Homo sapiens: one gene and its partner. The protein of the gene in region 1 interacts with the protein of each later gene in a pairwise test. Each region holds a gene or a part of one and is shown on either strand. Other genes may lie near its edges.

The links. Proteins that work in one complex are often made in the same cells at the same time.
Region 2: the proteins of SYT16 (region 1) and NCOA5 interact in a two-hybrid assay, tested with the Homo sapiens proteins (one large-scale study listed by BioGRID).

Annotation. Positions count from the first base shown.
Region 1 is NC_000014.9:61,815,182-61,819,979, forward strand, and holds part of SYT16 (synaptotagmin-16), read left to right. Parts: intron 1-4,798. UniProt on the Homo sapiens protein: May be involved in the trafficking and exocytosis of secretory vesicles in non-neuronal tissues. Is Ca(2+)-independent.
Region 2 is NC_000020.11:46,079,391-46,084,188, reverse strand, and holds part of NCOA5 (nuclear receptor coactivator 5), read left to right. Parts: intron 1-4,735; 5' UTR 4,736-4,764; coding exon 4,765-4,798. UniProt on the Homo sapiens protein: Nuclear receptor coregulator that can have both coactivator and corepressor functions.

The DNA.
Region 1 (4,798 bases):
GTTCCAGTGATACAGGAACTACTGTTCCTCTGTCCTTCTCCTTACCTCTGCAGGTGAGGAAGTGACAGGTGAGAGGGAGGTAGGAACAGAGTGATGATCACTTCTTTAGCAGTCCTGTCTTGTCACCATGCAGTGACTACATGACCTCGATAAGATAAATCAAACCTGGGCACAATATTGCCTTAGGGCTATAGCTGAGTGCTTCCCTCAACCCCCATTTTTCTCCCCCACAAAATTTCCCCTTGAGGGAAAAATTGGTTCTAAAACCAGGCGAAATCCAAGTATTCTATTCCAGTCATTTCTGGAGAGAATCCAGAAAGACCTTCTATATGAATGTAGCATGTAAATTATATAAAATATGGAGATATTTTTAAAATATTTGCCTGGAAACTTATAATGTTCACAAAAAAGAACATAGCCAATAGAAAATGTTCTTATATCTAGATAGCATGCTGTCTAAGGGCAGATTCCAGAGGAGAAAAGGGGAACTCGAGAGCTTCAACTAGGTTTTCAGTAAGTTATCATGAAATCGTGAGGAACTTTGAGATCCCAGTCTGTTATATAAAGTGGTGGTACTTGGGTACTGAACTATTTCATGATTTCCTCAGTGACAAGTATTCCAGATAATATTTTGTTTCCAGAACACAAAAGTAGTGAAGCGCTATTTTATTTTTTTATTCCATTTATGGCATATGTTGCATTATTAGTACTTCCTTTTATAGGTGTTTAGTTTTGAAGTCACTTTAATCTGTTTGTAAGAATAATTTCTTAGGATCAGCCAGGCATGTTTAGGTAATGTTGGAAACATCTAACTCTATTATACCCCAGAAATCTTGGGCAGTTTTCAGGTGGATGTGTCTTTGGGGCTGTGACAGATGAACATTTGGTATTGTAAAAGGAGACATCTGTCCCCGTTTGGGTGCTCCTGGTTTCCTGGCTGATCTTGTGTCATTTTTGCCTGTTGCATCCCAGGCTGATGTTCCTGCCCTGCAGTCAGTCTCCACCAGCAGCCACTTTTTCCCTCCTTCTTTCTTGTTGGCAACCTGCAGTTTCCTTTCTCCCCATCCTGTCTACTCCATCAGCAATTTCCACTCAGTGCTCAGTCCTGGAAGAGGGTGGGTGGGGGTCGGGGATCAAATATAAGCCCTCAACAAGTCCACGTTAGAAACTAGTGCTAAACAGTGACTTGAGATATTCAGGATTTCAGATGCCTAGACTTTAAAAGAAAATTGCTTCACTTTGGCTGAAAATGGATGGAAAATCTTGAGTTAAATGATTTCTAACCCTAGTCATTATTAAAAAGTTTACAAATGATGCCAACTAAAAAATATAGACAAAGAGAGTTAGAAAATTACTACTTTGAAACCATCATAGCAATAATTAATTCAAGCAAGATTCATCCATGGATGCTGAACTGTTATGTGAAAATTTTAAGAGGAACAGAATTATTTACATTGTTAAAGAATTTCCCCCAGGACAACCCATTTCTTTAGGATCCCTCTCTGCTGCAGAGAGCTCTTTCTTTCTTAGTTAAGAACTTCCACTCTTGGCCGGGCGCGGTGGCTCACGCCTGTAATCCCAGCACTTTGGGAGGCCGAGGCGGACGGATCACGAGGTCAGGAGATGAAGACCATCCTGGCTAACATGGTGAAACCCCGTCTCCACTAAAAATACAAAAAATTAGCCGGGCGTGGTGGCGGGCGCTTGTAGTCCCATCTACTCGGGAGGCTGAGGCAGGAGAATGGCGTGAACCCGGAAGGTGGAGCTTGCAGTGAGCCGAGATCCTGCCACTGCACTCCAGCCTGGGCGACAGAGTGAGGCTCCGTCACACACACACACACACACACAAAAAAAGCATTTTCCCCAAAGATTATTTATTAATTGGAAAATGGGGGGAAAACCTGGAGTATACGAACTTAACCAAATAATCAAAGTTAACATTAACAATAATGGGGCTAGTTGCGGTGGCTCATGCCTGTAATCCGAGCACTTTGGGAGGCCGAGGCGGGTGGATCGCCTGAGGTCAGGAGTTTGCGACCAGCCTGGCCAACATGGTGAAATCCTGTCTCTACTAAAAATACAAAAAATTAGCCGGGTGTGGTGACAGGCGCCTGTAATCCCAGCTACTTGGGAGGCGGAGGCAGGAGAATCTCTTGAACCCAGAAGGTAGAGGTTGCAGTGAGCTGAGATCACGCCATTGCACTGCAGCCTGGGCAACAAGAGCAAAACTCCATCTCCAAAAAAAAAAAAAAAAAGAATAATGGGACAAACTGATATCCTGTACTTCCTGATAGGAAGCACCGGGAAGGACACAATGCCACTTACTGTGCCACAAATGTATAACCTGGTTCTGATCACGAGGAAACATCAGACAAAGGCAAATCAAGAGACATTCTGTAAGTCAGTGTCATGAAAGATGGCTGAGGCACTGTTCAGATTGAAGAAGACTAAAGAGACCACTAAATGCAATGGATGATTTCAGGTTATATCCTAGATGAGGGAAAAAATGCGACAAAGGACAGTGTTGTGATAATTGGTGAGATTTGAATATGGCTTGTATATTGGATAATAGCATTGTATCAGTGTTAAATTTCTTAAATTTGATATTTTTATTGTGGTTGACATGGGACATGATATCTGTACCTAAATGTCAAAGGCTTTAGGAAAAAAGGATATATGCATGTATGTGTGCATTTATATGTATATGTGTATCATATGAGAGAGAAAGCAAAGGTGGCCGAAGGTTAGCATTTGGTAAATTTAGGAGTTCCTTGTGCTGTTCTTGCAGCTTTTCTGCGAATTTGGGGGAGGGAGTTTATAAATGAAAGCACTGAGCTATTAATCTGTATTCTAGGCTTTATGGTCTAATACTATTGAGTTTACTTTTTGAAATAAATAACGTTGGACTCCTAATTCTGTTGTGAAGTGATAATGTTAACAAAACTTTTTATTAGGGAAAATTTCATATACACAAGAAGAGAGAATAGTATAGTGAACCCCCATGTATCCAGGTCACATAGCTTTAATGAGCGTTGGTATTTCACCAGGCTTGTTGCATCCATCTCCACCTCCACCCCCACTTTTCTGGGAGAGGCATTTTGAAGGCAAATCCAAGACATCATGATGCTTCACTGCCCCTCTGTGCATACTTCCCTCCTCATAATCCCCAAGCTTTTATCAGACTTCAGTAGCAATTCTGCAATAATAGATGACAGCAGCCAGGCGCGGTGGCTCACGCCTGTAATCCCAGCACTTTGGGAGGCCGAGGCGGGTGGATCATGAGGTCAGGAGTTTGAGACCAGCCTGATCAACATGGTGAAACCCCATCTCTACTAAAATTACAAAAATTAGCAGGGCGTGGTGGCACTCATCTGTAATCCCAGCTACTTGGGAGGCTGAGGCAGGAGAATCGCTTGAACCTGGGAGGCGGAGGTTGCAGTGAGCCGAGATTGCTTCACCGCACTCCAGCCTGGGAGACACAGTGAGACTCTGTCTCAAAAAAAAAAAAAAAAAACAGCATTTAGATATTATTAATGTTATAGAATAGCAGAGTTCTGAGGAATGTACTGATTTGACATATATGGGCTGTGCACTTGTTTTAAGTTTGAAAAGCTGACTAAGCCTGGGTAATTATAAACAGTGTAGAAGAAAAGGTCTGTGAACCTGCTTGTTCTTGTTTTGTTTGCTAAACTGCTCCTCCTGTTTTTAAACCAAGAATTAAATTCTAGAAGAAAACATAAATATGGTTATGGTGGCAATATTCTCAACTGATTTACCCAGTTGATGTTATCTTATTGAAACATTCTAAGAGTAAATCAGCATAAATAATTTCATACTGTTTGAATAGAATTCCTATGTTTTCATTTCACCATGGCATCTTTGAATTGGTAAACCCAGTAAAGCTTTTTCTTGACCAACCTGAGTTTCTAAATGAATCTAAAATTTGGTCTATATGTTTTATAAAAGAAATGGGACAGACATCTTGGGAGGAATAAACCTTCCCTTCTCCTGAGTATAGTAGATTTGGATGACATTTGTCCTTTTAGATCACTAGGGTATTATTTAGTCATTAACTATTATTTAGCATTATGAATGATAAGATGGCTATTATGCCATTTAACAATTGTCTGTATATTAAGATGATAATCAAACTCACTGACAGTGCTTTCTAGTAGATTGGAGAGGTATCTGAAGTGCATATTACAAAAAAAATTTTATGCACAGCTGTCATCCTTCCATTAAGGATTATACATATCTGATTTTAGGTAGTTTACATTTATGGATGGATATTACCCCTTTAGAATAAAATTTTCTTATTGTGAGAATATAATATTCTTCTGGCGTCTAATTTTAGGAATATAATAAGTCACATTCTATAATTTTACTCACAATGGAGCAAAGATTAAGAGACATAAAATGATTTTACCCACCCTGCATGAAAATGCCCCTGGTTTATATACTTAATTCAAAAGAGCACCATACAGATAACCTACCAATTACAAGGAGGTTTTCAATTGGCTTAGCTCAATAGAAATTGCAAAAGATTGAAGAACTGAGTGTGGTATGGTGGAAGAGAGCACAGGCCTGGTTCCAGAGGTGCCTGAGTCGTGAACTCTGGTCCTGCCACTCAAAGGCTGGGTAAGAGGTAAATTGTTTAACTTCCCGGAGGCTTTGTCTTATTCCACTCTGAGGAATTACAAGGAGTAAAAGAGATGGAACAGAGTTGCTGGCACAACATATGCATTAATAAATGTCTGTCCCTTTACCTGCTACAAGATCCTTCCAATGGCGTGTACCT
Region 2 (4,798 bases), on another chromosome or scaffold:
TAGAAATTATAGCAGTATTTAATTCCAAGAGTTGTAAAAGGATTGAATGAAATAATACACATAATGTTCTTAGTACACAGGCTCAGGAACAAAATAAGCATTCTGTAAGTATAAACTATTGTTTCCCCCATTTCTGTTCCCAGGAATAATATTCTAATACAGTTAAAGATGTAATAATTATTTTAGTTGGAGAATAAAGGAGATAATCAAATATATAGGGAAAGTATAGTATTCAAAGTGAACTTAAAGGGTTGATTTAGAAAGAGCAAGCATAACATTCTCTTATCCCTGACTTGTTACAATATAACTCATTACAATATCCCTGATGTTGCAATATATCATCAAAGTTGTCTTCATAAATATAGTTTAGCGAGAAGTCCTGTCATTTCCCCTCCCAATTTGGGGGATTTAATGTGTGATATTCTCTGTCTTGTCAGTATGGTTTTCCAACTGGCATTATCTTTATCAGCATGTAATGCCACTTTAGTAATTCTTGATTGTTAGTTGGTTTTCAACTAAGCCTTTTAGAGAGTTTTATGTCATTTGTAGTCAGTTATTAAAACAGTATAGGCTTCTGGGTTCTTTGAACAGCTAGTGGTGGTACTGTCACTAAGTGTTGTAGTTCATGTGGCTGTCAAAAGACAAAATTACAGCACACTTAGTTTAGAGATCTTAATTGTCTTTTATTTGCAACTCTAGAATAGGGCAACACCTCATTCTATAAAATAGAACAAGTGTTCCAATGAGCTGAGCAGAGGCGTTTGGCTTTATAAACAGAGAAGGGAGCTGAGGAAAGCAGAGACAAGGAGCAAAAAGCGGATTGGTCATTTCAGAGTTACTTTTCTTGTGAAGGGTAAAGCAGTGCAGACTTCCTTTTCATGCTGGCTAAAACTGGCCTATTTGTGGTTTTGGCCATTATTTATCTCCTGATTTCGCAGAACGTCAGGAAAAGATCTTTGTCTTGGCTTGATAGCGTGGAACTTCATCATGAATTTGGTTTGGTCTTTGGGCCTAGTTCAGGAGCTCAGTCCAAAGCAATGGCCTCCTGGAAATTTTCTTTGACACCGCTCTTGTTATTCCTAGTCCTCATTGTTTTCTGTGGCTGTAGCTTATGAACTATAAAATCTGGTTTTAAGGTGAAAAGAGTTGTTTTATGATTGTACAATTAAAAAATAAGTAGAACAAAGTAGTTTTTGGTACTGTGAGTGAAAGAAACATGCATTTTTATTTATAGCATTATCCAAGGACCATTTTGTGACCCCTGTCTGGCATATTAGTCTAAAATAAAATTGTGGATTAGATATTGTATATTTTGGGAGTTCTTCACCCCATCCTTTTGTAGTTTATAATGGTTCTGCCATTTCCAGCATGTTTTCTAGATTATTTTCCAGTTCTTTTCCTTGTATGTAAAGCTCTTTTTCTTGTCTAAAAATTCTTAACTGAGAAGTGCTTTTAACTGTTTTCAGACCACCACTTGGACACTATAGATATTCAGGCCAAGATAAAGCACTTCATGGTGATTATGATGATTTTGAATGGCATTCACATTGCTAGTATAATTAACAAAGTATAGAAGTATCACCCAAACTGAAGTGGAGAAGACACTGAGAGATGACTTTTGGTCTTAAGGGCAGTTGGCCAGAATAAAGTATAGCAGAAGGGGAAAGAAGTACCGTTTCTTCCCTTTTCTATTCAGAGGAGACATTAGACCTCTCCTTGGAAGAGATTCCCAAGTTGCCACTTCCCTCTTGTTGATTAATTTTTCTCCAACCAGAGTTCCCCATCTGATGTCCAGAAAGATCTCCAAATTGTCTTTCTACCTTTTTTTCCCTTCTTTACATTAACACCATTTCTATTTGCTTGGTGTTGATTATATCTCTCTATAAGGATTTAGGAGAAAATAATCTGATTATTTAATACAAAATAAAACTATAGATTAGATACTGTGTCTTTCTTTGGGAATTCTTCACCCCATTCTTTTGTGGTTTAAAACAGTTCTGTCATTTCCTACATGTTTTCTGGATTATTTTCTGGTTTCTTCCTTTTATGTAAAGCCGTGAGTTGGTGCTTTAGCATTCTCAATATTTGCATTTTCAAAGAAAATCTTTTTTAAATGAACCCTCTGCTTCCAACTGACAGGTTTTCAAATTCTGTGACAAAAAAAATAGGATGAGGGAAGTTTTTTCTTGACTTCTTGAATCTTTGCTCTCCGTGATTAGTTCCTTAAAGTTATTTATTCTTCTGTATTTCTGAACTCATGGATTTCCCAAAAGTTCTATGTGCACATGTGTTAGGATTTTTTGGGTGTATGGGGATTGGCAGTAATGTTGGTGGTTGTGTTTTTACAACTCTCACTGAAAACTCCCCAGCCCTACCCTAATCTGAGCAATTCTATTAGATAGGAAAAAAAAAAAAATCCAGGTCTCATTTTCTCCATACGTCAGCCCAGATGGAAATTTAAGGAACTCTTAAATAGAGATGAATAAACAGATACTTGACATACTACACTAAAAGTTTACTAAACCCTAAAATGAGACAATTATCTGAGAATTCTTGTTTTTGCAGAAGAAACATCCCATGCTGTCAAATATAAATACTTTGGACTACCCAATGAAAATAGATACTACGAGGCAAATTACAATCAAAATGGTTTAAAGATATAATCTTGAATATTCTTTAATCTTTTAAGTAATTACAAAACGATTCCACCAGCTTCAAAGTAAAATATTTATGTCCTTCATTCTAACTAGAACTGGTTTTGTTCCAAAGATATAGTATACATGACCATGTGATTTCTCCAGTTCTGTATGTAGATGCTCACGAAACTGGCTATAATTATACAGTGTAATATTCCTTTTCATATGTAGAGAGCAAATTATTGGTAATAGAAACCTACCAATTAAAGTAATACTATATGTGTTGTACTCTTAACCTGAATGTTTGCCAGGTCTAGTCAGTGTTTAGATGTGAGTTTCCTTTATTCACAAGACCATTTAATAATATATGAACTCCTGCTGAAGTTATGTTATGTATATTTTTTATCTTAATACACACCCAGTGTATTCCAGAGACACCTTGAAAACTACTTAAAATACTCAAAGATATTATATTTCTCTCTGAATCATAGCCAACCTATATAATTAGAAAGTGGTACACAGTAAGTGAACAGACTCAGTAAGTCATAAACCTGAACTAGTATTCTTCACAATTACGTATAATAGAACTAGATATTCCCTATAAGGCCTGTCATTATATAATTTGTAATTTAGACCATTATAAACTTTAAGAGTTGTAAATTGTGAAAGTACTGCATGCAGTAGCAAAGCTATGGTCAGATATTACTGGCCAAGTCTTACATAGAAAATATTTTCAGGTTTTTTTTAAAATAGAAGGATTATATCTTGTGTCTGCTTAATTGAAAAGGTAAGAATCAATTTAAGATATACTTCACTATTTAGCTTTATATTATTTTCAGTTTTGTCAGAAGCCATTTTTCTAGACAAATTAGAGACTTCTGATTTAAAATGGAATTGAAGATTACCTTCATTTGATCAGGAACTCAAAAGTTGGCAAAATAGCAGCATAAAATCTCTACCAGACCTCTAAGTTTCTTGTTATTGCTGTGGTCTTTCATGTGATAGGAATCTGGTTGGGATTTTTAAAATACATAATTATTATTTTAAAGCACTCGAATTATGTGAGTACTTAATACCATTTGATGTCATTAGATACACTATTAATTGTTTAATACGGAAAAAGGGGAACAAACTCTACTGCAGCAGAAAGCACTTTTATTTCTTCATTCATCTGAAGTATGAAATTTGTAATGTATTTATTTAGCTTTAAGTCATATGAAAACTGTCAGGTATTATTTTGGGGCATAGATTTCTTAGTACATGGTATTTATTATTCACTTCAATTTTTGTAAAGCAGGTATTCTTGGTTTTTAGCAAAGCAGGCTTTAGCTATACAAATTTGCTTTTCTTTAAGCTTATGTGATTCTACTTTTCTCCCATATCTAGTTCTATACGCCAGCCTTCTCTAATGAAAACAACTTAGGAGGAGTGTTTTATTACCTAACCCTACTATACCAAACGCCAGTCCTTATTCTTGGTTATCTGTAGATGTTAACAGGTCATATTCTTTGTTTATTAAAAATAATAATAATAATTTTCTTTCCTGCATGTTATTCTGGAAGATTCTATCCAGTGGAATTCAACACAAGACACACTAACAGGAGGCCCTGCTTCATGGGATATTGGAAGTTTTAAGACAATGAAATCCAGCTATTACTTCTTAGTAACATAAAATAGAATTATTTGCCTTTGCTCTTTTGTTTTTTAAACTCTCCTTATCTTCCCCCCCACTTTCTTCCTCACAAAAAGAATCTTACAGCTGCTTTCTAAGAGTTTAGAAAACAACCTTTTCCTCCCCTTGGAGGGAATGTGTCAGGTCTAGGTCTTGGCAGCGTGTTAAAGCATTGACGTAATTAGTTTAAGACAAATTACGTGTTAACTAGAAAACGAAGGGACATTTCTTACCAAGCCGTGACAATGTACTACCTTAACTCAATAATAAAAATTGCCCAAGTGACAGTGTGTCTCTGCTGAATGGCTTTTCTTACACCATCTGGTTGTCATTGTAGTTTTTGTTGTTGTTGCTTTCATTTGAAATGTGCTGATGATCTTGTTTTTATTCCGTAGCATTGAACAGATGGGTTGATTATTCTTTTCAGATATTAATAAGGCAGCGGAAAGAAGAAATATGAATACGGCTCCATCAAGACCCAGCCCCACAC